Linked DNA regions of Homo sapiens. The protein of the gene in region 1 purifies or fractionates together with the protein of each later gene. This does not show direct contact. Each region holds a gene or a part of one and is shown in the gene's direction. Other genes may lie near its edges.

What was found.
Region 2: the proteins of TALDO1 (region 1) and CFDP1 purify together in Homo sapiens (affinity purification with mass spectrometry; 2 studies listed by BioGRID and IntAct, with this or other methods). This does not show direct contact.
Region 3: the proteins of TALDO1 (region 1) and ATG2B purify together in Homo sapiens (affinity purification with mass spectrometry; 2 studies listed by BioGRID and IntAct, with this or other methods). This does not show direct contact.
Region 4: the proteins of TALDO1 (region 1) and TKT fractionate together in Homo sapiens (co-fractionation; 2 studies listed by BioGRID). This does not show direct contact.

The regions. Positions count from the first base shown.
Region 1 is NC_000011.10:750,449-757,470, forward strand, and holds part of TALDO1 (transaldolase), read left to right. Parts: intron 1-5,430; coding exon 5,431-5,554; intron 5,555-7,022. UniProt on the Homo sapiens protein: Catalyzes the rate-limiting step of the non-oxidative phase in the pentose phosphate pathway. Catalyzes the reversible conversion of sedheptulose-7-phosphate and D-glyceraldehyde 3-phosphate into erythrose-4-phosphate and beta-D-fructose 6-phosphate.
Region 2 is NC_000016.10:75,430,499-75,437,878, reverse strand, and holds the start of CFDP1 (craniofacial development protein 1), read left to right. Parts: upstream 1-4,375; 5' UTR 4,376-4,526; coding exon 4,527-4,590; intron 4,591-7,380. Other genes in the region: tigger transposable element-derived protein 1-like, read right to left, coding at 1,780-2,577. UniProt on the Homo sapiens protein: May play a role during embryogenesis.
Region 3 is NC_000014.9:96,360,332-96,367,996, reverse strand, and holds the start of ATG2B (autophagy-related protein 2 homolog B), read left to right. Parts: upstream 1-4,655; 5' UTR 4,656-5,020; coding exon 5,021-5,182; intron 5,183-7,665. UniProt on the Homo sapiens protein: Lipid transfer protein required for both autophagosome formation and regulation of lipid droplet morphology and dispersion.
Region 4 is NC_000003.12:53,232,021-53,239,042, reverse strand, and holds part of TKT (transketolase), read left to right. Parts: intron 1-1,222; coding exon of another isoform or gene 1,223-1,246; intron 1,247-3,868; coding exon 3,869-4,060; intron 4,061-5,768; coding exon 5,769-5,887; intron 5,888-7,022. UniProt on the Homo sapiens protein: Catalyzes the transfer of a two-carbon ketol group from a ketose donor to an aldose acceptor, via a covalent intermediate with the cofactor thiamine pyrophosphate.

The DNA.
Region 1 (7,022 bases):
CTGCACTCCAGCTTAGGAGACAAAGTGAGACCCTGTCTCAAAAAAAAAAAAAGATATTTATTTGCCAAATAAAGTTACTGAACTTGTGAACTTCGGCCGGGTGTGGTGGCTCAAGCCTGTAATCCGAGCACTTTGGGAGGCCGAGGCAGGCCGATCATGAGGTCAGGAGATCCAGACCATCCTGGCTAACACGGTGAAACCCCATCTCTACTAAAAATACAAAAAAATTATCTGGGCGTGGTGGCGGGCGCCTGTAGTCCCAGCTACTCGGGAGGCTGAGGCAGGAGAATGGTGCGAACCTGGGAGGCGGAGCTTGCAATGAGCCGAGATCGCGCCACTGCACTCCAGCCTGGGCGACAGAGCGAGACTCTGTCTCAAAAGAAAAAAAAAAAAGTTACTGAACTGGCTAATCTGGAGCAATGGGCCATTCTATGGGTGTCAATGGCCATAACTCTTCACCTCCACTTTCCATTTGGACAGCCAGATGAACAAGACCCCAGGTTAAGCCTCGTTGGCTTCTTTGAATTCCTAGCTTGGTTATGTGAGAAATAACTAATGTGTTAAAAGAAACAATAGTTTTAAGAATAAAGAATCCTTGGGTTTTTGTTTTTGGGGTTTTTTTTGAGACAGGGTCTTGCTCTGTCACCCAGGCTGTATAGTGGTGCAATCACGTGGTGCAACACGGCTAACTGCAGCCTTGACCTCCTGGGCTGAGGTGATCCCCCCACCTCAGCCTCCCAAGTAGCTGGGACTACAGATGTGCGCCACCACTCCCAGCTAACAATCCTTGCTGAAGATAACCATGTGGTATCTGTGTTGAAGTCAAAATAAAATGTAGAGACGAATCTCTAAATTCAACGTTTTATTTGGGAAGAAAAAATTGCAGTTCAAGCAGACTGGGTGGTCTTCGATCTGTCCAAAGAACAAGAGAAAGTTGGGGCCAGCCTCGGTGGCTCATGCGTATAATCCCCAGCACTTTGGGAGGCTGAGGCAGAAGGATTGTTTGGGCCTAGCAGTTCGGGACCAGCCTGGGCAACACAGTGAGACCACATCTCTACAAAAAATTTTTGGCTGGTGGCTTACGCCTGTAATCACAGCACTTTGGGAGGCCGAGGAGGGTGGATCACCTGAGGTCAAGAGATCGAGACCAGCCTGGCCAACATGGTGAAACCCCATCTCTACTAAAAATACAAAAAATTAGCCGGGTATGGTGGCAGGTGCCTGTAATCCCAGCTACTCGAGAGGCTGAGGCGAGATAATTGCTTGAACCTGGAAGACGGAGGTTGCAGTGAGCCGGGATCACGCCACTGCACTCTAGCCTGGGCGACAGAGCGAGACTCCATCTCAAAATAACAATAATAATAATAATAAACCATCAACCTCATTTTGATGGTAATTGATGTGTGTGCATGCATGCATGTGTGTGTACACAGTTCCTGTCTCATAACTCCCACAGCCCTGTTATAATGTTGGGGCACTCTAGGCCTCAGGAGCAGGCCTTGGAAAACAGAATTTCCATCACTGACCTTCTCCTCTCCTTTCACCTGTTCCTTTCTCTCTTCAAGGGAGGAATCTTTCCTGCCTGTTTTGGAGCTGTCCATAAATAAATTATCTACTTGCTTTTCTTTTCTTTTTTTTTGGAGGCGGAGTCTCGCTCTGTCGCCCAGGCTGGAGTCAGTGGCGTGATCTCAGCTCACTGCAAGCTCCACCTTCCGGGTTCACGCCATTCTTCTGCCTCAGCCTCCAGAGTAGCTGGGACTACAGGCGCCCGCCACCACGCCCACCTAATTTTTTGTATTTTTTTTTTTTTTTTAGTAGAGATGGGGTTTCACCGTGTTAGCCAGGATGGTCTGGATCTCCTGACCTCGTGATCTGCCCGCCTCGGCCTCCTAAAGTGCTGGGATTACAGGCACCAGCCACCGCGCCCGGCCGTCTACTTGCTTTTCTAATTGTGGGTCCTAAGACCCTCATTTCAAAAGGGGTCCCATCACATACCCTGGAGGAAGGAATGTTGCACGGAGGACGGTAAGAAGGTGAACACAGAGGCGTTGCTGGGTTTCCTCACTCATTAGATGATAATATTTCAACAGGGCTGTCCATACTTCAGTCATGTCTCTCCAGTAGAGTCTCCATAAAAGGCCCAAGAGGACAGGGTTCAGGGAGCTTCCAAATACCTGAACACATGGAGCCTCCTGAAGGGTGGTGCACCCAGGGTGGGCATGGAGGCACCGTGCCCCTTCTCACATGCCTTGCCCTATGCATCTCTTCCTCTGTGTCCTTTGTATAATAAGCCAGTACATGTAAGTGAGTGTTTCCCTTACTTCTGTGATCTGCTCCAGCAAATTAATGGAACACAAAGGTTAATTCAAGTTGACAACCCCAAGTTGAAGCCAGTGGATCAGAAGTTCTGGAGCCCAGACTTGTGACGGGTGGGAATGGAGAATGGTTGGTTGGGACTAAGCCTTCAACCTGTGGGATCTGAGGCTGTCTCCAGGTAGACAGGGTTGGAATTGAATTGGAGGATGCCCAGCTGGTATCCACTGAAGAATTAATTGCTTGTTTGGTGCGTGGGGAGAAACCCCCACACATCGGTCACAGAAGTCCTCTCTGTTGATTATTCTGGTATGAGAGCAGAGGAATGCAGTTCAGGTTGTTTCTTCAGAGGCCGGGCGCAGTGGCTCACGTCTGTAATCCCAGCAATTTGGGAGGCCAAGGTGGGTGGATCACCTGAGGTCAGGAGTTCGAGACCAGCCCGGCCAACATGGCAAAACCCCGTCTCTACTAAAAATACAAAAAAAAAAGGCCGGGTGTGGTGGCTCACACCTGTAACCCCAGCACTTTGGGAGGCTGAGGCGGGCGGATCATGAGGTCAGGAGATCGAGACCATCCTGGCTAACACGGTGAAACCCCATCTCTACTAAAAATACAAAAAACTAGCCGGCCGCAGTGGCGGGCGCCTGTAGTCCCAGCTACTCGGGAGGCTGAGGCAGGAGAATGGCGTGAACCCGGGAGGCAGAGCTTGCAGTGAGCCGAGATGGCGCCACTGCAGTCCGGCGTGGGTGAAAGAGCGAGACTCCGTCTCAAAAAAATAAAAATACAAATACAAAAAAAAAAACACAAAAAACCATAGCCTGGCGTGGTGGCTCGTGCCTGTAATCCCAGCTACTCATGGGGCTGAGGCAGGAGAATTACTTGAACCTGGGAGTTGGAGGTTGCAGTGAGCTGAGCTTGCGCCACTGCACTCCAGCCTGGGCAACAGTGCAAGACTCCGTCTCGGAAAAAAATAAAAAATAAATACAAGTACAAAAATTAGCCAGGCATCATGGTGTGAGCCTGTAGTCCCAGCTACTGAGGACGCTGAGGTAGGAGAATCACTTGAACCCTGGAGGAGGAGGTTGCAGTGAGGCGAGATCATTTTACTGCACTCCAGCCTGGATGACAGAGTGAGACTCTGTGTCAGAAAAAAAAAAAAAGCTACTCAGTGGCTACAAGTTTGGACGTTTTGAACTGTTTAGTTGGTTACTCTGAAGAAAAAAACTTTTTTATTTTTTTTTGCAACAGAGTCTTGCTCCATTGCCCAGGCTGTAGTGCAGTGGCACAATCTCGGCTCACTGCAACCTCCACCTCCCGGGTCCAAGTGATTTTCCTGCCACAGCCTCCCGAGTAGCTGGGATTATAGGCATGCACCACCACGCCTGGCTAATTTTTATATTTTTAGTAGGGACAGGGTTTCGCCGTGTTAGCCAGGCTGGTCTCGAACTCCTGACCTCAAGTGATCCACCCCCGTTGGCCTCCCAAAGTGCTGGGATTACAGGTGTGAGCCACTGTGCCCAGCCACTGAGTAGCATTTTATGACTGGGTTGATTAAAGCAGAGAATGTCAGCTTTATAAAAGGGACCACCAGTACAATTTGAACAAAAACTTGGGACATTGTCAAAGTTGTCCACTCCGACTAAAAGGATTCTTAGGTCAGGTTTTGTCAAGTTACCTGCAGAAGCTACTGAATGCGATATTTATTTATTTGTTTGCTTATTTATTTATGAAACAGAGTCTCACTCTGTCACCCAGGCTGGAGTGCAGTGGTGCAATCTCAGCTCATTGCAACCTCCACCTCCTGGGTTCAAGCGATTCTCTTGCCTCAGCCTCCTGAGTAGCTGGGATTACGGGCATGTGTCACCACACCCAGCTCATTTTTGTATTTTTAGTAGAGACTGGGTTTCACCATTTTGGCCAGGCTGGTTTCAAACTCCTGACCTCAGGCGATCCACCAGCCTCAGCCTCCCAAAATGCTGGGATTACAGGCATGAGCCACTGCACCCGGCCTGAATTTATTTTTTTAAGAGATAGGGTCTTGCTCTCTGGCCCAGGTGGGAGTGTAGTGGCATGATCATGGCTCACTGCAGTCTCAACCTCCTGGGCTCAAGCGATCCTCCTGCCTCAGCCTCTTGAGTAGCTGACGCTACAGGCATGCACTACCACACCTGGCTAATTTAGTCTTTCTATGAAACCTAAAAAGAATGATTGGTGAGTGATAGCAGTGGATAAAATTAGTCTTAAAGTTGCAGCAGTGCGGTTCAGCAACTATTAGATAAACTGGTTTCAGGTTAGAGGCCGCTTCAGCAACTAGGCTTGCAGGTAATAATTTTTGGAGCAATGCTGTGTGTCCTGAGTGCTTTTCCCCTTGGCCTTTTTTTTTTTTTTTTTTTTTTTTTTTGAGATGGAGTCTCACTCTGTCACCCATGCTGGAGTGCAGTGGCGCGATCTCGGCTCACTGCAAGCTCCGCCTACTGGATTCAAGCCATTCTCCTGCCTCAGCCTCCCGAGTAGCTGGGACTACAGGTGCCGACCACCACACCCAGCTAGTTTTTTGTATTTTTAGTAGAGACGGGGTTTCACCGTGTTAGCCAGGATGGTCTTGATCTCCTGACCTCGTGATCCACCCGCTTCAGCCTCCCAAAGTGCTGGGATTACAGGCGTGGGCCGCCGCGCCCAGCTCCCCTTGGCTTCTTGACTCTGTTGCAGCTGGGTATGGTGATAATGACCCAGTCCATAAGATCAGCGTTCACATGTGGCTCATGACTAGACCGCGCGCCTCCTTGTGGTGGTACGGCAGTGGGATGCACATTTTCCTTTGACCAGCGTTCTCCCAGCTGTCGCACCGCTCACTCCCATGCTGTTACAGGTCACCTCTTGCAGGGGCATATTTGATCGCTGGGCACTTAGTGTTTGTTGTTCCATCATTATGCAAACAGCCGCCTCTTGATGAACCTTCAGTGACCCAGAAGAAGGTGTGAGAAGTGTGGCTGGACCCCGCTTTCGGAAATGCTCTGGACTCCCCTAACGTCCTGGGGAATTACAGGGTTCCTTCACATGTTTCCAGTTGGAAGCAAGTACTCCACTTACTTTGGCTTTTGAAAACTATTTCCCTAGCCATCGACGAGTACAAGCCCCAGGATGCTACCACCAACCCGTCCCTGATCCTGGCCGCAGCACAGATGCCCGCTTACCAGGAGCTGGTGGAGGAGGCGATTGCCTATGGCCGGAAGCTGGGCGGGTGAGTGCCTGGACTCGGGAGGGTCCCAGCTAGGCCCTCGTGCTAGTCTAGTTGGCCTTGCTTCCCTCCCTAACTGAATTTTAGTTCTCAAACACCATGAACTCAAGGGGGGAAAAAAACCCTATCTTTTTGCCTATTTTTGTTTATTGAAGTGTAATCTGCATGAAGTAACCTGCACCTGTGGTAAATGAGCAGTTCAGAGAGTTTTGCCAATGTGTGTACCCTGTAAATACCACCCCAGTCAAGATGCAGAGCACTTGCAGACCCCCACAGGCCCCTCCTCCCCTCCTGTAGTCAGTCTCCCCAGCTCTGGTAACACTTACCTTCTGGCTGTCATTTTATTTTTTACTTTTCAGACGGAGTCTCGCTGTGTCACCCAGGCTGGAGTATAGTGGAGCAATCTTGGCTCACTACAACTTCCGCCTCCCTGGTGCAAGCAATTCTCCTGCCTCAGCTTCCCAATTAGCTGGGCTTACAGGTGTGTGCCACCACTCCTGGCTCATTTTTGTATTTTTTTTTTTTTTTTTTTTGAGACAGAGTTTTGCTTTTGTTGTCCAGGCTGGAGTGCACTGGCACAATCTCGGCTCACCGCAACCTCTGCCTCCCAGATTCAAGCGATTCTCCTGCCTCAGCCTGCCGAGCAGCTGGGATTACAGGCATGCGCCATCACACCTGGCTATAATTTTTGTATTTTTGGTGGAGACAGGGTTTCACCATGTTGGCCAGGCCGGTCTCGAACTTCTTACCTCAAGTGATCCACCTGCCTTGGCCTCCCACAGTGCTCGGATTACAGACGTGAGCCACCGTGCCTGGCTTTTTAATTTTTTAATAGCTTTTATAACTCCCAGAATGTTCTCTGGTACCTGTTTGCAGTAGCTCCCCACTCCCTTACCCAACCAAGCAACTGTAGAGCCCTCTTCATGCCTGTGGCTTTGCATATTTTAGATGTCATTTTAGATTCTCTTCAGGGTAATAATTCAAAGCTTGAAGATGGTGCCGAGCAGGCAACGTGGGCACCACACAGGAGCAGGTCCCTCTCTGGTACTGGCTTTGCTTAGGTCCAGGTGGCTGGTGAGTGGCTCCCCTGACCATGTTGTGACAGCCACTCTGGACACTGAGTCTGACCCTCTCCTCTCTCTTCTTAGCTCCCTTTTCCTCATCTCGTGGTGTTGCACCCCTGTGGCATCAGTGAGGCCTTGGTGCTCCTGTTATTGGGTGACATTGGTGCCTTTGCTTGGCTGGGTGATCAACAGATGAGCCCTGCACCCATGTCCAGATGGCCCCAAATTTTTTTTTTTTTTTTTTTTTGAGATAGAGTTTGGCTCTGTCACCTAGGCTGGAGTGCAGTGTCACAATCTCAGCTCACTGCAGCCTCTACATCCTAGGCTCAAGCCAGCCTCCCACCTCAGCCTCCCAAGTAGCTGGGACTACAGGTGCACGCCACCACACCTGGCTAATATTTGTATTT
Region 2 (7,380 bases), on another chromosome or scaffold:
CTCCCTCTGCCACCCAGGCCGGAGTGCAGTGGCGCGATCTCGGCTCACTGCAAGCTCCGCCTCCCAGGTTCATGCCATTCTCCGGCCTCAGCCTCCCGAGTAGCTGGGACTACAGGCGCCTGCCACCACGCCCGGCTAATTTTTTATATTTTTTAGTACAGACGGGGTTTCACCGTGTTAGCCAGGATGGTCTCGATCTCCTGACCTTGTGATCCGCCTGCCTCAGCCTCCCAATCAATAAGGCTATTTTTAAAAGTTTGCTGGTATAGAGCCATTGCAATGTCTTATTAATCACATGCATGTCTCATCTATTCCTTGATTCACAAAAGATTTATTTCTTGATTTCCTGGATTTACAGACCCAGTCTAGTCCAGAGTGTCAATGAGGAGCAATTTCAGCTGACAAAAACTCATATTTGTATACAAGATAAACAAATAGTTGCCGGGCACGGTGGCTCACGCCTGTAATCCCAACATTTTGGGAGGTCGAGGCAGGCGGATTGCCTGAGGTCAAGAGTTTGAGACCAGTCTAGCTAACATGGTGAAACCCCGTCTCTACTAAAAATACAAAAAAAAAAAATAGCCGGGCGTGGTGGCGTGCGCCTGTAATCCCAGCTACTTGGGAGGCTGAGGCAGGGGAATTGCTTGAACCAGGGAGGTGGGGGTTGCATTGAGCCGAGATCGCGCCACTGCACTCCAGCCTGGGCGACAGAGAGAGACTCCATCTCAAAAACAAACAAAACCAAATAGTGTGGTAGTCATTGGTGTCTCTTCTGAATTTGCTTCTGATTGTTACCTCATAAATAGATCATTAAAATGTTTTAATCTGAAGAAATGGTAAAGATTATATATGGTTGTACTTCCATATGGTTTAACTTGAAGGGTTCCTGTGGATGATGGCTGCATTCCTGAATAGTCAATTCTTTGTATTCACAGTAGTTATGGCTATAAAGTTGTCGAGAACATTGAATTAGCAAAAACCGAACCATGGGTCCTGGGAGAAATACAGGGTTAGGTTCCTGTGAACCTCTGGTCAACACTTTTGTCAACTGATCGGTATGTAACTTTGTTTTATGTGTGTTTCTGTTCAAAGACACCTTATTTAATATGTATTTCTTAAAAATAATCTGCAGTATTTACAATAAAATTTCAATGACAGTAGTTTGGTGTAATGTACTCTAGTGTACTGAGATTGCACTACTTTTTTTTTTTGAGTCAGTCTTGCCCTTTTGTCTAGGCTGGAGTGCAATGGCATGGTCTTGGCTCACTGCCACCTCCGACCCCCAGGTTCAAACGATTTTCCTGTTTCAGCCTCCTGAGTAGCTGGGATTACAGGCGCCCACCACCACACCCAGCTAATTTTTCTATTTTTAGTAGAGACAGGGTTTCACCATGTTGGCCAGGATGGTCTTGAACTCCTGACCTTGTGATCCGCCCACCTCAGCCTCCCAAAGTGCTGGGATTACAAGTGTGAGCCACCGCGTCCAGCCTGTACAACCTTTTCATTGGCACACACAGAGTACACACATATAGTTCCCATATACAGTCAACAGTATAACATACTGTACAGTTCCCACAGTAAACACATACACTACTTTGCACACATACTGTATACCCTACAGTACAGCAATACAAATAAAGGGAAAAAGTTCAAAGATGGAGCATCCTAAGTTTTATAAAAATATCAACTAAAATCTTACGGTTGATGGAGCTGCACAATGTGGTTAAACCTCTCGACCTTGGCTTGCCCCACAGAAACCAGGGGAGGGGTGAGTGAAATTTATTCTGCAGAAGAGGAAGAGGGTGGCAGGTCAACCTCTGGCATTTCTACCTTAGGAGTCTGGCTCTTGACACTTGTTGAAGGAGTGGGCAATCTTCCCTCCCAAACTGGCTTGAGAAATTGCATTAGCCTTGCCTGCCTGGCTTTTCTGCCTGAAATCTTTAAGCATCTCGGTATAAGGGGCAAACGCAGTGGAGGCCAGCCATTTAAATTTGAGGCTTCGATCAAGCGTAGGGTCACACTCTTCCATGTCGCTAAAAATTTTTTCCAAGGCAGAACTCCATTCTGATATTTTGGCGCTGTGAGAGGGACAATTCTGGAAGTCTTGGGCCGACTTTCATGGCCATCAACTCCAATGCCTTCTTTTGCCATCTCATCCAGGTCTTCGTTGGTTGGTTCCACTGCCTTCTCTGCCAAAATGTACTCCACATCTCCTTCCTTCACGTCATCAAAGCCCTCTCCACTTACCTGCTGTGCCATATGCATTATGTCTCTGACAGTGTTCTTTATATTTTCTGTAACACCTTCAAACCCTTCAAAATTCTCCACGCAGTCTGGCCAAACATTTTCCCAACAGTTATTGGTAGTAGCCTGACCAATGCTCTCCCAGGCTGTACTGACATAATCAATAACGTTGCATGTAGTGACCGACTTCCAATAGTCCAGCATGGTGGTTTCCTTGTTGGTCCTGAGAGCCTCACAGGCCTTCATATAAAGCTCCCTTGTGTAGTGTGCCTTGAATGCTTTTATTATGCCCCGATTGAGGGGTTGGATGAGAGACTTAGTGTTTGGGGGCATAAAAAGAACTCCTATGTTGGCGTGTGCATTTTCGAGTTCTTTGCAGCAATGGATTGTAGCATTATCCAAAATTAACAAAACCTTGAAGGTGCCCGGCGCGGTGGCTCACGCCTGTAATCCCAACACTTTGGGAGGCCGAGGCAGGCGGATCATGAGGTCAGGAGATCAAGACCATCCTGGCTAACACGGTGAAACCCCGTCTCTACTGAAAATACAAAAAATTATCCAGGCGTGGTAGTGGACGCCTGTAGTCCCAGCTACTCGGGAGGCTGAGGCAGGAGAATGACGTGAACCCGGGAGGCGGAGCTTGCAGTGAGCCGAGATTGCGCCACTGCACTCCAGCCTGGGCGACAGAGCGAGACTCCGTTTCAAAACCAAACCAAAACAAAACAAACCCAAACAAACAAAAAACAAAACAAAACAAAACAAAAAACCCTTGAAGGCAAGGTTTCTGCCCTGGAGACAGTGTTCAGCTTCTGGGATGAAGCAGTTGTGGAACCAATCAGACATCATCCACACTTTTTTGTTCCACCTCCAATAGACTGGCAGATGGTTCACGTATTTCCCGTTAAGTGCTTGTGGATTTTGGGTTCTTTACACCATTAGGAGTTTGCACTTTAGTCGCTCTTGGCATTGGCGCACAATAACAAGGGTGCATGATCCTGGCATGATTTAAAGCCAGGGGCTTTGGAGGCCGTTTGCATTATATAGGTTCGTTTGCCAACATCCTTGTAAAATAAGCCAGTCTCATCCGCATTGAAAACCTGCTCTTTCACATAACCCTTTTCCTGTATAACACTTAGCAAGTATTTTTAAAATTCTTCCGCAGCCTCCTGATCTGCAGAGCTCGCCTCACCTGCAAGTTTAACATTTTTCACCCCGTATCGCCTTTTGAAACGCGCGAGCCGGCCAGCACTCGCCGAGAAGGGCTTAGCATTTCTTTGACTCTGGGTAACGTGACCACAGATATCTTTGGCTTTCAGCCTCACCACAATGCTGTCCACTATGTTTTTTTTAATCGATTGACATCTCATGAATCCACAAATTTAGCCGCTTTTCCATCTTTTCCATCTTTGTCATAGCTTCATCACGCACGATGGAGGTCACTTCAGCACTATCCGGAGCGGCCTCACGGACAGATCGGTGAATTTCCTTTTCCTTTTTCTTGATGTACCGGATTGTCGACTCGTTAACATTGAGCTCATGGCCAACAGCACTGTAACTCATGCCTGATTGGAGCTTATCCAACACGCGGACTTTCTCCGTAAGGCACATCACGGTCTTCTTTCGCTTAGGAACACTGGGCAGAGCTTAAGCACTACGCTTGGGGGCCATTTTAGAAAGCAAAACCACCCACAAAAAGCAGAAAAAAAAGTGTCAGTAAACAGACTGCGGAAAGGACTCTTTGTTTACAGCACAGGAGCTGCGACTAGAAGGCGGCGCTTCTCCCAGTTCAAACTTCAGCTGGGAACCTTACCTCCGCCAACTCCAAATTTTCACCCTCTGCGCATGCCCGGGAAGAACCCCAGACAGTACCGTGATGATTGATTTTAGGGTTACAAATACATTTTAGCAAGTAAGTGAATTTGGCATTACGAATTAATGATTAATGAAGGTCACCTGTATTTCCATAGATATGTAATTTTATTTAAGCAGGTTTATTATATTAAGGCGGCGAGGCAGCGCCGAAGACTACAAGTTCCAGCATGCACCGCGTCCGGGCGGGTTCGGGCTCCCAGCGAGGGCTTCAGGGACGCCAGCCCGGAGGCATCGGCCGGAAGTGTCGTAGGGCAACCACGTAGTACTCTCTGCGCATGTGCAAAGCGCTGTCGGGGGCCGCCCTAGCTGCCGTCGCCGCCGCCGGGGCTCTATGGTCTCTCCCTAGAGCTTTGCCGTTGGAGGCGGCTGCTGCGGTCTTGTGAGTTTGACCAGCGTCGAGCGGCAGCAACATGGAGGAATTCGACTCCGAAGACTTCTCTACGTCGGAGGAGGACGAGGACTACGTGCCGTCGGGTGAGCGATTCCGCCTGAGGCGAGAAGCGAATTGCCCCGCCCCACGCCTCACGTGAGGCGCGCTCTGCCCCCGCGGGCGTCTGCCCTGTGGCCCAGGTGGTCCAGGGGGGCTCCTGTTCTCGAGCGTCCGCTCCCTCAGGCCCCTCATCCTCGGCCGCTCCGGCCCGAGGCGTGTGCGCGTGGCGGTTCTGTGCTCCCCTCCCGTTGGGCAGCTCCGGCCGCCGCCCCCTCTTGCAGCGCGGGAACCGGCACATGGACACGGCCCCTTGTCGCTAGGGACGCTCGTCGGTCAGCCCCGAACGACACCGCTGCTTCAGAAGTCGGGGCGGCAGTCCGAGCCTTGGAGGTTTTTTTCAGCCCTGGCCCGAGAGAGCTGCTGGCCACCACCCCGTCCAAGATAGAGCTGTCCGCTCTCCGCCTGGTTGTTAGAAAGTTCTGATAGAAAGTTCCCCCTTTGATGCTTTTTGCCTCATTGTGACGTCCACCCATCCTCTCCTCTCAGAACTTTCTTTCCTTAGGGATCTCAACCCGAACGGGGTGAGAATGAATCTTACTGAAGAAATCTTTCTGTTCCCCCTTCTTGGTCTTCCCCAGACAAACCGTCTCGTTGAAAGTATCTTCACCCATTCACATCTTCAGTTGAAAGACTAGACAAACAAGAAACAAACAGACTAACAAAACACAACCCAGGAGTCGTCCCTATTCTCTTTGTTTTACTTTGTTCTGTTCTGTTTTATTTAAAGACAGGGTCTTGCTGTTGTCTAGGCTGGAGTGCAGTGATGCGATCTTGGCTCACTGCAACCTCAGACTCCTGGGCTCAAGCGATCCTCCCGTCTCAGCCTCTGGAGTAGCTGGGACTGCAGGTGCAGGCTGCCACGCCCGCTAATTTTTTAAATTTTTTTTTTTTTTTTTTTTTTTAGAAATGGCATCTTGCTATGTTGCCCAGGCTGGTCTCGAACTCGTGGGCTCAAGTGATCCTCCCACCTCAGCCACCCAAAGTGCTGGGATTACAGGCATGAGCCACCGCGCCCCGGCTAGTGAAGTATTTCTAAAAGGCACGTTGAAAACTAGCCATTCCATTCCTGGCGCGGTGGCTCATGCTTGTAATCCCAACACTTTGGGAGGCTGAGGTGGGTGGATCACAAGGTCTGGAGATCGAGACCATCCTGGACAACATGGTAAAACCCCGTCTGTACTAAAAACACAAAAATTAGCTGGGCATGGTGGCACGCGCCTGTAGTCCCAGCTCCTCAGGAGGCTGGAGCAGGAGAATCGCTTGAACTCGGGAGGTGGAGGTTGCAGTGAGCCGAGATCACACCACTGCACTCCAGCCTGGGTGACAGAGCGAGACTCCGTCTCAAAAAAAAAAAAAAAAAAGTTAGCCAGTCCCATCACCCTCATCCCTATTTTATTTAATATTCCTCAGGAGAAACTTCTTTCCACCTTTTGAATTTGGTATTATATTTCTGTTGTCTATTGATTTAACCCATGTATAGTAGGTATCATTTTTAGTAGCCCCTGACCTCCTTCCCCTCATCCCAAACACACACACAAACACTTCCACCTTCGGGGCCTCCCCAACTCCGTAGTCTGCCGTTGAACCTGTGTCCAGTTTTAGTTAGATCAGTATTCAGTGTTTTTTTTTCTTTCGAGACAGTGTCTCGCTCTGTGGCTCAGGCTGGAGTGCAGTGGCACAGTCTCTGCTTAATGCGGCCTCTGCCTTCCCGGTTCAAGCAGTTCTGCCTCAGCCTCCTAAGTAGGTGGGATTACAGGCGCCCGCCAGCACACCCGATCGATTTTCTTTTCTTTTCTTTTTTTTTTTTTTTTTTTTTTTGAGACAAGAGTTTTGCTCTGTCTCCCAGGCTGGAGTGCAGTAGCGGGATCTCGTCTCACTGCAAGCTCTGCCTCCCGGGTTCACGCCATTCTCTTGCCTCAGCCTCCTGAGTAGCTGGGACTACAGGTCCCCGCCAGCACACCCGAATGATTTTTTTGTATTTTTAGTAGAGACGAAGTTACACCATGTTGGCCAGGCTTGTTTCAAACTCCTGACCTCAAATGGTCTGCCCGCCTCGGCCTCCCTGAGTGCTGGGATTACAGGCGTGAGCCACCGTGCCAGGCCCAGTGTTTTTTTTTTCTAATGACAGTGTGAATAAACATCATGTTGACAGCTGAACCGTATGTTATACAGATTACTTTTCCTGCACTTCTTGTTTTCTCTGGTGCTAATAATTGCCATTTTTTGTTGCTACTTAGCTGTCTATGTACTTAACTGCTGTAAACCAAAAATAAAATTCTAAGGCGCCCCCAACCATCTGAATGGACTTCCTCCTTAGCCAGGGCTCTTTAACATTTAACCTGAGAGACTGTTTTGGGCCATGATGGGAAGTGGGGGCTGAACCTGCCTCATTGTATGTCTCTGACATTAACATCGATGCAGACTTTAAGTCTGATAATAAACATTTTGCAACCTATTCTCTCTGAAGCCTGTCTGCTAAAAGCTTCATCTGTATGATAAAACTGTGTTCTCAGCCGAGCAGTGGCTCGAGCCTATAATCCTATCACTTAGGGAGGCAGAGGCTGGTGGATCATTTGAGGTCAGGAGTTCAAGACCAGCCTGGCCAACGTGGTGTAACCCCATCTCTACTGAAAATATGAAAATTAGCCAAGTGTGGTGACGGGCGCCTGTAATCCTATCTACTGGGGAGGCTGAGGCACGAGATCTCTTGAACCCAAGAGGTGGGGGTTGCAGTGAGTGAAGATCATGCTTCTGCACTCCAGCCTGGGTAACAG
Region 3 (7,665 bases), on another chromosome or scaffold:
ACATAAATCAATATCTACAGAGACATAAAATAGAAAACCTCACTGCTTTCCATTTAAACTCCAAATTGGTTCTCTACCAGATCCTGAGCAATATTCTGTTTCTAGCAAAGAGACAAAAATTGGAATACTTGACAATTGCTATTATTTATTCTGGTAGGTTGTATCACCTGATGTAAAGTTTCCATAAATGATTCCTTAAAACATCATACATAAATTATTTAGGAACCAGCTCTTTCTCCATAATTTTTGGGCGGTGTTCGGGTGTTTGTGTTTTTGGAGGATTCATCCAACTGGTTATTATGACATTGATTACTAAATCGTTTATTCTTTACTTCCTAATTTATTAGACTATTTTGTTTCATTACGAGTTCAGAGCATCAAAGAGCTTTATCCTTGATGACAAAAAAATGGGCAAAGACAGTCATATATACTTAGTCTGACAAAAGAACAGCCCCAGAAAGATTTCAAGAACATATGGAGTGCAAATTTTCACTTTGAAAGTCTGACCTTTCAGTTGACATTGTTAACAGTCAGCTGAGGGCAGGATACGATATCTTAATCATGATTACCTTTATTTGTATCACACACTACAACCTGGTAAATCCTCTCAATATGAACAAGGGGCCAGGAAGATGTGATGGTTAACAGGCTCTCAAGCAGACTGACTGGGGCTAGAATTTTAGCTTGGCCACTTAATTTACTCTGGGACTTGGAAAAAGATGTTTTAATCTTTCTCAGTCACACATTCCTCCTCTTTAAAATGATGTTAAAATAGCATCTACCTTTAAGTGATATTGAGAGAACTAAATGAATGAATACATGGAAAGTGCTTAGAACTGTGCTGGGCAAACAGCTGAAAAAATATAATCTATTATATTAAAAGTATTTAACACTATCTTTCAAGAAGAAAGCCTGACCCTGAAGCTCAAGCCATGTGGCTCCAAGTTAGGTGCTCTTTACATTATGTGGGGGATTGGCTGCTGCTGTGTTGTACAATTCCTCCAAGAGCCGTGAGGTGTGGAGCCCTGACAGCGTCGTCCTGTTACCTCAGGTGCAAGTCATTAAAAAAGGTCAAATACATCTCCTTGGCTTTTCTTTCATTTCCCATGTTAACAGATTTCTCTGAAGGAGGATTATTTTGACATGACCCATTTAGCCTCTGGCATACAGCCTCTCACCTGTCACTTCAAACTTTTACATAATTCTTAATAAGCTGACAATATTCGGTTGGGTAATTATTTTCTTTTTTAAAATTTATTATTATTTTTTGAAATAGGGTCTTGCTCTGGCACCAAGGCTGGTTTCAAACTCCTGGTCTCAGGTGATCCTTCCGGCCTTGGCCTTCCAAAGTGCTGGGATTACAGGGGCACGTCACCACACCTGGCCAGGGTAATTATTTTCATCTTCCTTAATTAATGCAAGGTGTTAACATTTTGTGACAGGTACTTTGTCTTTGACAAAACACAAAAATGGCACTGTGATTTGAGATGAGTTTGTACCCTACTGTAGCCAAAGATATCATAATGACAGGTCCTAAACCTTAACATTTATACTGAATTTCTCCTAGAAAGCATAAAGTTTACAAGGCAACACACAATACTCTGAATAGAGCATATTTGTTATTGCAAAACCGTCGTTTTAATTTTCCTTTCTGATATTTGAAATTGCAGGCACTCTATGGATAGCCCGAATGCAATTCTATATTGAAAAAGGAAACCACTTATTTAATAACTGCTGAAAGAAGTCCAAATTGTATCTATTTGTCAGAAGTCTATTTCAAACCTTCCAAAGCCTATTCTAATTTCTTGCAAGATCCCACCTTTGCCTTTTCATACCACCTTGTTTGTATTCCTTTTATGGCAAATATTAGAATTATTATTTACAAACATGTCTTATCTTCAAAATATATCCAGAATCCAACTGCTTCTAACTAATCATTTTCACCGCTACCGCTTTGGTCCAAACCACTGTCATCTTTTCCTTGCATTACGGTGATATCCTTCTAACTGGTTCTGCTGTTTTCACTCTGGCCCTCCCACTTCCACACCAGACTATTCTTAACAGCAGTTAGCATGATCCCATAGAAACTTAGGCCATACTGTGTCACTCCTCTCCTAAATCCACCTCACCCAGAGTAAAGGCCAAAGTTCTTTTTATTTTTTTAAGATAGAGTCTCACTCTGTTGCCCAGGCTGGAGTGCAGTGGCACAATCTCGGCTCACTGCAACCTCCGCCTCTCGGGTTCAAGCAATTCTCCTGCCTCAGCCTCCCAAGTAGCTGGGATTACAGGTGCACGCCATCACACCTGACTGATTTTTTATATATTTTTGGTAAAGACAGGGTTTCACCATGTTGGCCATGCTAGTCTTGAACTCCTGACCTCAAGTGATCCGCCCACCTCGGCCTCCCAAAAGTTCTGGGATTACAGGAGTGAGCCACTGTGCCCGGCTCCAAAGTTCTTATCAATGGCCTACGAGGCCCTACATGATGTGCTTCCTCTGCGCCCCGCCCGCCCCACCCCCCACCCCCAAACTGCCCAGCTTCTACTTTTTCCTTCACTCACTCTTGATGTTCCCTAAATTCATCAAGCATTCTCCCGTGACAGGGCGTTGCACTTGCTGTTCCCCTTGCATGGAAAACAACTCTTCCAGGTATACATGTGCCTCACTTCCCAGCTTTCTCCAAGTTTCTGCTAAAATGTAATCTTATTAAACAAGAGAATTTCTCTTACCATCTCATATAAAAATGGCAAGTCCCTTCTCTCTTCCCCATCTCCACTCCCTTTACATTGCTTTCGTTTTTCCAACAGCCCTTATCACCACAAAGCATATTATTCACTCATTTATTGTATGTCTCCTCCCTTCAATAAAATGTAAGTTCCAGGAAGGAAGAGATTTATCTGTTCACTGCTGTAATCCCAGTACCTAGAACAGTGCTTGGCACACAGAAGGCAATCAATAAATATTTACTGAATAAATGAACAAACTTCCACTTTATTGAGAGAAAGGGTCTTGCTCTGTGGTTCAGGCTGGAGTGCAGTGGCATGATCATAGCTCGTACGATCCTTTCTGATATTTGAAATTGCAGGCACTCTATGGATAGCGTCAATGCAATTATGCAGCCTCAAAGTCCTGGGCTCAAGCGATCCTTCCGCCTCAGCCTCCACAAGCAGGTACCACCATGCTTCCGTTTTAGAACATAAACTCCTTGAAGGTTCGGCCTGATTCTTGACACTGTTCACATGATCAACTGTGGTGACTTTCATTTAATGGACCTTAACAAATATTTCTGAATGAAGAGCAAGGGAATCTAAGTTACTGAGAATACTTGAGATGAGTCTACAAAGAATGAGGGAAATCAACAATCCAAGCAACTGCATACAAAGTACCCTGGTTCTAAAACGAAAAGGTGGTTGTGGAAAGGGGAACCAGATGTTTCTCCATCTACCAATATTTTGGGCTGTATTTCCAAGGCATTCATGAAAGTTGCCGAGACAGTAAACATTTCACTCCTTAAACTGGTCGTCTTAATTCACTGTGATTAAACAGCTGTATGTTTCAGGACTCTGTTCAGGTTCGTGCCCTACTCATATCATTTAATCTTCCCAACAAATCCATGCACATAAGATTTTAATCCGCTCACACTCGGCAAAGGAGGCAACGTGGGCTCGGGGAGGGCAGTGGCCGCTCAAAGTGGCTGGGCGGCTAATAGGTGTCAGTGCCGGGATTCTAACGAAGGACATCTGGCTTCTGGGCCATAGAACACCCGCACCCAGGCCTTTCGAGGTTGACTTAACTTAACAGCCGGCTCCGCCTCTGCAGGAGTTACCTCCCAAAAGGCAGAAATACGATTGCGCAGACTGCCAGAACAGCCCAAGTTCTTCACCCAGGTTCCGGCGGGGTCAGGAGCCTTTAGCATTTCTCAAGGAATGCAGTTTTGCCCACAGATGCTTCGAAAACCCAAGTTTCCTGATCGTTGCTATGACACACCCAGGATTAAGCGAGCGTATGCGAGAAGCGCTCTGCAAACCGCCAGGCAAACGGCAACGAAGAAGCTGCCTCAGAAACAATACCTGAATGAGGCGGGGGCCGAAGAACTTGCTGACAATGGGCACCGGTCAATGCTCGGGTGCGGGCGGGGATGCTCGAGAAGGGCTCCAGTCCTCCCAGCGGAGACGGCGGAGCCCCAAGTGTGCGTTTCCGGGGCGCCGAGGTCTGAGGGGAGCCGGGAGAGCCAGGCCGGCCAGACCGGCCCCCAGACCCCTCTTAACACGGGCGCGGGGCCCCTGCAGCCTGCCGCCCCTCTCGGCCCAGCCAGCTGCATGGCGTCGCGTCCCCATCCGGAAGGCCTGACGGCCCGCCGGCGCCCCGAGCCCCTAGCCCTTCTCGGGGGCCGCCCCTCGCCCGCAGCCACCCCGGCTGCCGCTCACCTGCGCGCCCGGCGTCCTCTTCTTCCTTCCTCCGGAGGCGACTGGAGCCGACCGGCGGTGCCGCCCCCTCCCTCCCCGCCTTCTTCCGCCCCGCCCCCTCGGAGCCGGAACTGCTCCAGCCCCCGCCCTTCTGCCCGCCTTCCGCGGCCCCAGTGTGGCGTCACTTCCGCCAGCGCCCGGCGGCGCGCCGGGAGTCTGGGTCTCGTGAACGCGCCAGGAGCGTCCCTACAGCCGGGAACGCGCCTCGCGGATGACAACAAATTCGTCGCGCGGCGGCAGTGGCGGTGGCTGCCTCAGCCCCTGCCGCCTCCTCTCGCGCTCTCTTGCACTCTCTCCGAGCCGGTTGGGACCCTCCTCGGAAGTCCCCTGGCCTGGGGCCAGGAGGACCCCTCTGCGTCTTGCCTCCGCCAGGCCCAGCGCGAGCGGTGCGGCGCCGGCGATGGGGTCTCCCTGAGGGACTCCCGGCACCAAATAGGGATGGAGGGGCCGCCCCAGGCTTAGGCCCCGCCGCGGCCTGGAGCCGGAGTCGCTACCCCGAGGCCGGAGCCGTCGCAACCCGCAGCCGCAGTCAGCCCAGCTGCCAGCAGTCACTATGCCTTGGCCGTTTTCGGAGTCCATCAAGAAGAGGGCCTGCCGGTACCTCCTGCAGAGGTACCTGGGCCACTTTCTGCAGGAGAAGCTGAGCCTGGAGCAGCTCAGCCTGGACCTGTACCAAGGCACCGGGTCCCTCGCCCAGGTCCCCTTGGACAAATGGGTAAGAGCTGCCGGCGGCGAGCCGGGCGGGGCTCGCTCCCCTCTTTAGGGCGCTTTGAACCAGTGCCATCCAAGATTGGTGACAGTCAGTCCCTCCTTGGGAATTGTTTGGACCCGAGTGTGACACGGCTCAGAGAAATGTGTTAGAGTGTTGTTTAATCTGTTTCTAACAAGTTTGCTCTCCTAAATCACGTGTTCCGGAAACTTTAACAGATGTAATGGAATCTACACTGTGGGAATAATTGAGTCAGTGCTTCGGGGGTCTGTGAAGCAGGCTCAATAGGTCCGTGGGAGGAGGTGACCAGAACTGTCCCTCGGGATGTGAGGGGCCGCAGGGTTTTGTGGCAAACAAACCCTGCCTTGTGGGATGACATTCTGGAAGGATTAAGGATGAAGAGGACCTTTGGATGTCAGAATCCCTAGTTATTTGTTTTGGGTTGGCTGCTTGCGCACCATGTTTGCCTTGTTTGTCATCGTGCAGCGTTTGCCATCTGGAAGAAAGTTAGGTGAAGGCCTCTTGTGCCGGTTTGCCTGCTTTTGCTTGATTATATGTTTACAAGATAGGTTTGTGTATCCAGCCTGTGAATGGTCGTCTGGCCCTAGTAGTGCTGTTGAGTTATGCCTCTTTGCTCCACGTGACAGATCGTAAAAGCAGGTGTTGCAAAAGCGCTGAAGTTGCAATTTTCAGACATTTTAAAACCTGCCTTCTACTTGTCATCTAGAGGCTGTGAATTCACTCATTGCTATACAGGTGCTTCATCTGAATTTCGACTCACCACATGCAGTCGTACCTGCATTTGTGTGTTCAATGCATAGCATTTTACTTAAAGTATATTCACTTTTGGGTTTGACAGGAATAGAGTGACTTCTACCCTTTGCCCAACCCTTACTTCCTTAGCCACAGAAAATCTTAAATTATGGAAATACCTTATTATGACCCTTAAGCGAATTTGTGCTAGAGACTATAAATCAGTATATAATTTTATCAGTATGTACCTGACATAAACTAGGGAGAGGACACAAGATAGTGGAAAGAGCCCTGGTTTGAGAGCAGTAAGACCCAGTCGCTCACCAGGAGGTGAGAGTCCTACCCCTGGAGAGACTCTCCAGACCGCCACAATTAGCCGAGTGATAATGGACTTAGCAATTCACCTGAGTTCAGTAAACACTAATGGAGCACACACTTCATCTCTGTGTCGTCCGTCTTATGGTATTGTATTCCTGTAATTCTTCCAAAAGATAGGGATTCTGAAGGATATTTTTGAATTCAACAACCCATGATTCTATACTTTTGATACAGTTATGAATAGGTTATCTTGAAAAAAGAGGGTTCAGGATTTATTAATGCCTTTTGTGGGTGGAAGGGCTTTGTATGCATTATCCTTTAATGACTTTAACCCTATAAGGTGGGCATTAATATTTCCATTTTACAGATGGAGTTAAGCAGTTTGCCCCATCACACATCTAGCAAGTATTACATCACATGGCCTAAGATCAAAAGAAAGGCAGTTAATGTTTATTGAGTATGTATTTATGTCAGGCATTGTACTAGGCACTTTCATTTGTGAGGTTTTATTTAGTCCTTATGGGAAATCAGAGGTAGTGATATTTGAATTTTATAGTTTGAGTTCAGAATCATTGGCAAAATGATTTATTACTAAACTTAATCTGAGGATGATGTTTTGTTCTTGATGGGCGGGTTTTGTAAACTAAAATGATAATGTCAAAGCATCCAGTAAACATTTGCTGTTGCTGATTTATTTTCATGTGCTGTGTTGATGGTTAGGATAAATCTTAGTGTGACCCTTAGATACAGCTGTTCAGAGTTCTGATTCCAAATTCAGTTTATTTTCACACTTGATTTTTTTTTTTTTTTTTTTTTGGTAGAGGATTCATTCTCTTGCTTTGTTGCCAAAGCTGGTCTTGAACTCCTGGTTTCAAGTGGTCCTCCCACTTCTGCCTCCCAAGTGCTCAGATTACAGGCATGAGCCATAGGACCCAGCCAGATACTTGATTTTAATGACTTACATGACTGAAAAAAAGGTACCTTCGGAGATTCACAGATCCTAATGGAAAAACTGATGCTAATTGAAGAATTGCTGTACTCCTACTGTTTCAATTCTAAATGATCAATTATGCAAAGAATTTTGTTGAACTCAGCAATGACATTCCTTTCATTCCTGATCTCAATTAGTTTTTCTATTATGGCTAATTGACATTGCATATATACACACAATTAGGTTTAAAATTCAGTTTTTCAAGCTCTTTGTTCAGAAGACTTAGATTGGTTGGAATAGTCTTTTCATGTTTTTAAACATTTTGTAAACTATATAGATAATGACTTAAAAAATAAGCAATGTTTTTAATAGACATTGTTTTCAGCAACAAAATCATGGAACAATGGAAACATTTCCAAATACAGTTTTTCAAATGTTCTCCTCATAGTACAAGTAGTCTTTGAAAAGTGGTTGCTTTCTTACTCAT
Region 4 (7,022 bases), on another chromosome or scaffold:
GAAGACCTGTCCCCATGATTCAGTTATCTCCTGCTGGGCCCCTCCCACAACCAGTAGGAATTACGGGAGCTACAAGGTAAGATTTGGGTGGGGACCCAGAGCCTAACCATGTCAGTCACTCATCAGAAGGGTTCCTTTGCCCTTTGGGGGCTAGGCCCTGTGCTCAGTGCTCATGTGCTGTATTGGGTTCCACCTTTAAAAGCCCCCTGTGAGTTGGGTAGTGGTGTGAGAACCGTGACCCGTCTTACAGGTGAGGAAGCTGAGGCAAGATGCTGGCCTAGGCCATCCAGTTGGTGGTGGAGGTACCCAGGCTGCTCTTGGAGAGGCTGAGGGCACCACAGGAGCTCGGGGAGTCCTGTGGGCGGGAAGCCTCCTAGAGGAGGAAGGCCAGTGGGGCCAGCCCGCAGGGTGTGAGAAGGGCCCAGTTCTGCAGCTGATGGCATCTCCACTGCCCTGTCCTCCACTCCTGCAGCAGAAGTGCCATAGTGGGGTTCGGGAAGACTGTGGGTCCTTGAAGGACAGGAGGCTGCAGGGAGCACCTTCTGTGTGCAGGCCCTTCCCCAGGACTGGCTCTCCAAGGAGGCCTCACAGTCCCTTCCAGACCCCTTCAGGCCAGTGTCACCTGACCACAGTTTGCTTTCATTCCTTGGTGAGCCTTGGGGCAGGCTTGGCTACACCCAGAAGTGATTCACCATGAAGTAAAGAGAGAGAGACACACAAAGAATGAGATGCATGTTTAAGAGCATTTTATTTGGCAGAGAACCAGAGATGTGAGTTAATTATTCCCTACAGTTGCTGGAAATAATTCCCTGTGAAGGGGCATTTCCTGACCCTAACATAATGGAACAAGTCAGTGTAGGGAGAAGGAGTTTAGCTGGGTTCCCAGAAGCCAGGGTGGCTTGGGGCCAGGGTTGCCTGGAGCCTAGGCCCCTGACTGTACCTGGGGGAAGGGGCCAGGGCATCCAGGGATTATCATGTCAGGCCAGGCACCCGGAGGTAGCGTCTTGATAGAGCAAACTGGTCTCCACTCACTGTTTCTCCCTGCCCTCCTGTTTAAAAAGTACAGAATGATATTAAGAAATGAACGTTTTCCTTATTTTTTTATTTTTATTTTTTCTGAGATGGAGTCTCGCTCTGTCACCCAGGCTGGAGTGCAGTGGTACGATCTCGGCCCACTGCAACCTCCGCCTCCCGGGTTCAAGTGATTCTCCTCCTGCCTCAGCCTCCCGAGTAGCTGGGACTACAGGTACGTGCCACCACGCCTGGCTAATTTTTTGTATTTTTAGTAGAGACGGGCTTTCACCATGTTAGCCAGGATGGTCTCAATCTCCTGACCTTGTGATCTGCCCACCTCGGCCTCCCAAAGTGCTGGGATTACAGGCATGAGCCACTGCACCCAACCAATGTTTTCCTTATTCTTAGCACACTGCCTCCCACCCCCAATTTAAATCTAATGATGTATTTTGTCCATGTTATCATGAGAAAAGCTTACAAATCTGTAATCCCAGTGTGTGTGTGTGTGTGTGTGTGTGTGTGTGTGTGTGTGTATAATATAAAATCTAGTATTACACTTTAAACCAAGCCTTCTATCATGAGCTTTTTCTCCTGATATTAACAGTGGAGAGCTGGTTTTTTTTGTTTTGTTTTGTTTTTTTGAGATGGAGTCTTGCTCTGTCACCCAGGCTGGAGTGCAGTGGTGCCATCTTAGCTCACTGCAACCTCCGCCTCCTGGGTTCAAGTAATTCTCCTGCCTCAGCTTCCCGAGTAGCTGGGATTACAGACGCGCACCACCACACTCAGCTAATTTTTATATATTTAGTAGAGACGGGGTTTCATGACGTTGGCCAGGATGGTCAGTCTCAAACTCCTGACCTCAGGTCATCTCCCTACTTCAGCCTCCCAGAGTGCTGGGATTACAGGCGTGAGCCACTGCACACATCCTGAGAGCTGGTTTTAATGATCACATAATATTCTGTTTTATGGAGATGCTATAATCCATCTAGCCAGTCCTTTGTTGTTGGACACGTAAGGTAGTTTCCAAATCGTTCTACAACAAATGTCGACCTTCTGTTTAGGGTTCCCTCTCTTCAAATTAGTTCATGAATGGATGTTTGCAGCCCCCCACCCCTAACTCTAACAGCTCAGGCAATACCAAGCCTCAGGGTTAGCCCAGGCTCCTGTAGGCCCCTTCCCTGTTCACAACCCCTTCCTTGGCATCTCCTCGGGACCTCAGCACGCCCTCTGACCTGAGCCTGATGGCCCTGTAGGGCTTAGCCTTGTCCCTAGTCTCGAAGCCAAAGCTGTGCTGGGCCTCCAGTGCTAGCCTCGGTTCGACTTCCCTGGAAGTGGGTGTGGGCTTGGGGTGGCAGCCAGTTGCCTTCCCTGGAATCCCTTTCTGGGAAGTCGAGTTGGCTTCTCTGGCTCAGCCCCATCATGTGGCCCCTTTCTGGAGCTGCTGTGCCAGACCAGAGTCCCTGCAGGGTCTCTGGGCCCCCTCAAAACCTACAGGGGAAAGAGGAGGCAAGGCTGGGACAGGATAGGGCCTCTGAAGTGTGGGCCTGAGGCTTTGTCCTTCTGGCCATGGTACCCCACAGGGGCACCACCTCCTGTGGTGGAGGCCACAGAAGAGCAGTATGAGGCAGGAGAGGCTGCAGGGAGTGCTCCTGGCCTGCTGGCATGTGGAAGTGCTGAGTCATGCTGACAGCTCCGTGGCTAGCTGTCCCAGCCTCTTCCTGCTGCCCCTGCCTTGGCCCTGCGGCAGGGAGGCCTGGAGGCTTGGACTGCTGAGCATGCAGCCGGGTTGAGGGCCTTTTCCTGCAGGAGCAGGAGGGCAGCCATGTCCCCTCTGAGCCCAACCAGGCACCAGCCTCATTTCCTAGGGCTACACAGCTAGACACTGGGCAGGGTAAGGGGAGGTCCCCAAGTCCTACCACTCCTCACCCTACTTGCATGCCTGCACGGCAAGGAGCGGACAGTCTAGGCTACAGTCAGACCTGCGTTTGAATCCTGGCTCAGCAACTTCCTGACAGCGCGACCTTCAGACAAGTCCTGTCTGTTGCTGCCGTCCCTCTGCTACCCCCATCCCCTCACATCTCCCAGGCCGGGAACGTTCTGTTTGCTGGGTAATTTATCCCAAGTTCAGTGTTCTTTTTAACGTCTCACTGTCTTGAAAAGATCACAGTTGCCTGTGTTGAGGGGAGGAGAGGGCCCCTGTGGTAGAGAAAGAGCCAGGTGCAGCTTCAGTCTTGGGGTCAAGAGCTAGTCTTGGAAGCTTGGGGAGAGCCTGTCCCAGGAAGCGCCTGGTCCTCAAGTGCCCTCTGCTCTATCCTCCCCAGAGCCCTCTTGCTCCAGGGTGTTGCCTAGAGTGCCTCAGGCCTCCTTGGCCCACCTCCCTCCTCCGGGCAGAAGCAGAGCTTGGTTCCCAAGGTTCCCCTTTCCCACTGGCCCACCCAGCCAGTCCCAAGGCCTCCTCCAACCTCTGGTTCACAGCGGGGTCTGTCCCCTGCAGCAGGTGGCTCAAGCCTATTCACCCACCCTTCCTCACTTTCCTCTCATTCCAACAACCCCCATTTTTCTAGATCTTATTAGCCAGATCCCTGTTGTCCTAGACCTCTGTTTCTTAACAACCAGTACTTCTTCCTGAGCTCCTGACGTCTTCCTTCATGCCATTTTCTCTTGGGGTGTGGCTTGTGGTAGGCTGCAGGAACCTGGTGACACTGTTGCCCCTCGAGTGTAAATGCCATCTGTTCTGCATATCCATGCGTGGCTGCTCCTTTACCCAGAATGCAGGCTCCTTGGATGGGTGGGGGGGTGGGAGCCAGCTGGGTCCAGGTGAGAGGGACTGGCCTGATTCACTCTCTGTCCACAGCTACCGAGTCTATTGCTTGCTGGGAGACGGGGAGCTGTCAGAGGGCTCTGTATGGGAGGCCATGGCCTTCGCCAGCATCTATAAGCTGGACAACCTTGTGGCCATTCTAGACATCAATCGCCTGGGCCAGAGTGACCCGGCCCCACTGCAGCACCAGATGGACATCTACCAGAAGCGGTGCGAGGCCTTCGGGTATGTACGAGGCTGTGGCCTGAGTGTGGTCACAGCACGGGAGAGTGGTCTGTGATCACAGCTTTGCAGGTGCAGGTGCAGGAGCTGAAGCTGGGACCTTAAGCACCATCTAAAGGTCCCTTTCTTTAGCATTTGACTCACAATTTCAAACTCTAGGCATTTGGACTTAATGGCTCAGGATATGTGGGCCAGGCCCAGTTTTAAGTGAGTTTCCTTGTTTTCGTGGTTGTGGCATGGTGGCTCTCGGAGCTTCCACACACCATCTCACGTCAGCTCGCTTTGTTCTTGAGGAAGGAGGGTTCTTGAGGGATGGGGGCTTGCTCGGTAAAGCTAAAGGATGTATAGCTGCGGAGAGGTTTGAACCTCAGTTTGGTGGCCACGTCCTGTGCCCAGCCCCGCCCAGCCTGGGGAGGAGGAACAGGCTCCTGGTGAAATGGGAGATAGGGTTTCCAGATGCCCCCCTTCGGCCTTGATTGGTTACAAATTCAGGGTCAAAGGGCACAAAGCAGGGAGGTCAATCTGCATGGGTGTCAGCCAGAGGGGCTCCACCTCAAAGCCTCCACCGGTGTTGCCAAACACAAGCTGCTCTGCACAGGGGCCCAGCATTGGCTGAGGAGGCTGTGGAGGGGAGGGAGCAGGGCAGGTGCCGTGCAAGGCTTTGAGACTCAGGTCAGGCCTCCAGGACTGCGTTTTGCGGATGAACCCATGCCTGTGACTACACTAAGTAACAGGATGCTTGGGGTTACCTTGCAGTAGCACAGCATACGCAGGCCTGTGTTCCCTGATGACTGACCTCAGAAAGGGAGAGGAGGAAGGGAGGAAATAATCTCTGTTGGACAGGCGAGGAAACTGAGCCACAGGGTCCTCACCCCACAGGCCTCCCCAAGGCCACATCTATCTGGGGACTCAGAGTACAACCCCAGCAGCACCCCCAGGACCTGTGTCCATAACCTCGTGACTCAAGCCAGATTCCTGAAGTCCTGGCTCCACCGCTAACTTGCTTTGTGGCGTGGGTCACGTTACTTACTCCACCTTCGGTGTCTCAGTTGATTTGTCTGTACAATGGGGCCAGCTCAGCACCCAAGCATGGCGTGGTGAGGCTTCAGTGGGCTAATATGGGTAGTGGTTGGCATGGCACTCAGTTTGAGAAGTGCTATTTTTATTCTTATGTCAAAAAGAGTCCCCAAAAGGATAGCTTTTCAAGAGAAAGGGTGCTCTGCCCCAGCTCCTTCCTGTATATTTGACTCCATGGTTCATTTCAAAAACATTTCCAGCACCACATCCAGCATCTGTGGAGTGATCAAATGTGTTCCCCAAATAAGAATTGGGCCAAAAAATTCATCAAGAATCTAATAGCAGACAGATTCCAAACCCAGTGCGCTGACCCCAGAACAGCTTTCAGTAGGAAATGAGCAGATCAGGAATGAAAGAGACAATAAAGGAACTGAGCTCTGGATTACTTAAGAGGAGGAGGAAAACCTGTTCAGAGGCAAACAAAAGGAAGTAAAATAATGTGAAAAAGAAAAGGATTTAAAAAACCCAAACTGGAAACAGGAATGTTGCAAGCTTTCTACTACTCCAGCTGAGGCCGCAGTTGTGGGGTGGAGCCTGGGCAGACCCCAGCTGCCAAGGCAGACCTTTCCCTGGAAGGCTCCTCGGTGTTGTGGCCCCTGGGAATTGCCCCTTACTCTCTGCCCCCTGTCCCCAGTTGGCATGCCATCATCGTGGATGGACACAGCGTGGAGGAGCTGTGCAAGGCCTTTGGCCAGGCCAAGCACCAGCCAACAGCCATCATTGCCAAGACCTTCAAGGGCCGAGGGATCACGGGTCAGTATGCACAAGCCGCCCTCCCCACCTTCACCCCTCGCCCAGACACTGTGGCTACGTAGCTCTGACCCGCACATCCAGGGAAACAGCCCTTGCTGCTCACTGAGCTCACCAGGCTCCAGGGAAGGGGAGCGGGAGATGCTGTGACTCAGTGACCCCTGTGGCTGAGCCAGGATTTAAACTCAGATCCGTCTGGCCTCTGCCGGTGGGGGCATGTACAGGCAGGAGGAGAGGAGGGACTTGGAGGGTCTGTGGGTGAGAGGAAGGTCGTGGAGTGAGGCAGCCCCCGTGCCCCACCCTGGCTGGTGCCTTTCAGAGCTGCAGCTGTGTGTGCTCTGCCAGCTCCGGCCACCTGCTCCAGCTGAAGGGCCGACACAGAGCCAGGCAGGGCCCGGAGAGAACTGTTCCCTCCAGGAGGTGAGTGGGGTACTCCTCAAGCAATGGCAGATGCTGAGCAAGGCCTGTGTGGGCCAAGAGCCTTGGGGGGTTTGGAACCTGGGTTCTGCCCCAGGCCGGAGAATGAGGCAGGCGTAAGTCACTCCCTGGCACCCAGGTGTGGGCTTCAGATTCCTAGGCCTGGGATGGCCTCACCCATTTTAAAGATGGGAAAATGAGACTACAAGTGGTCAGGGACTTGCCCGGGGACAGAGGAAGTCTATGGCACGAGGGGGGCTGATCCCAGGGCCTGGGTCGGCTTCCCTGCCAAATGCCCCTGGCTGCCCACCTGCCTGCTCTCAGGGGTTGTGGCTTGTTCTGCCCATGTAGACTCAGGTATATGAGGATGTTCTGAGTGGGGGTTTGGCAGTGCTGGGAGGTGTCTGGGAGGGGGTGGATGTCGAGGAAAGGGCTCTGGGATATTGTCATGGCTTTGGTGCTGCTGCCTGGCACTGCCCTCTGGTGTTAAAAATGGGCAGGATCTGGACCACTTGCAGCTTCTTGGGGGCTCCTGCTAGTCTTTCGGGCTGCTGGGTGCTACCTGGGAGTTCAGTCTGTTCTTGGCTCTGGCCAGACTCTAGTGACTACTGAGGTGACCTCCAGGGAGAGGGATATTCAGCCTTCCTGGCCGCACACAACAAGGTGCCATGGGGTGGGCATGCCTAGGTGCTTATAGACTCCTCTGCTGCTCACAGATGCA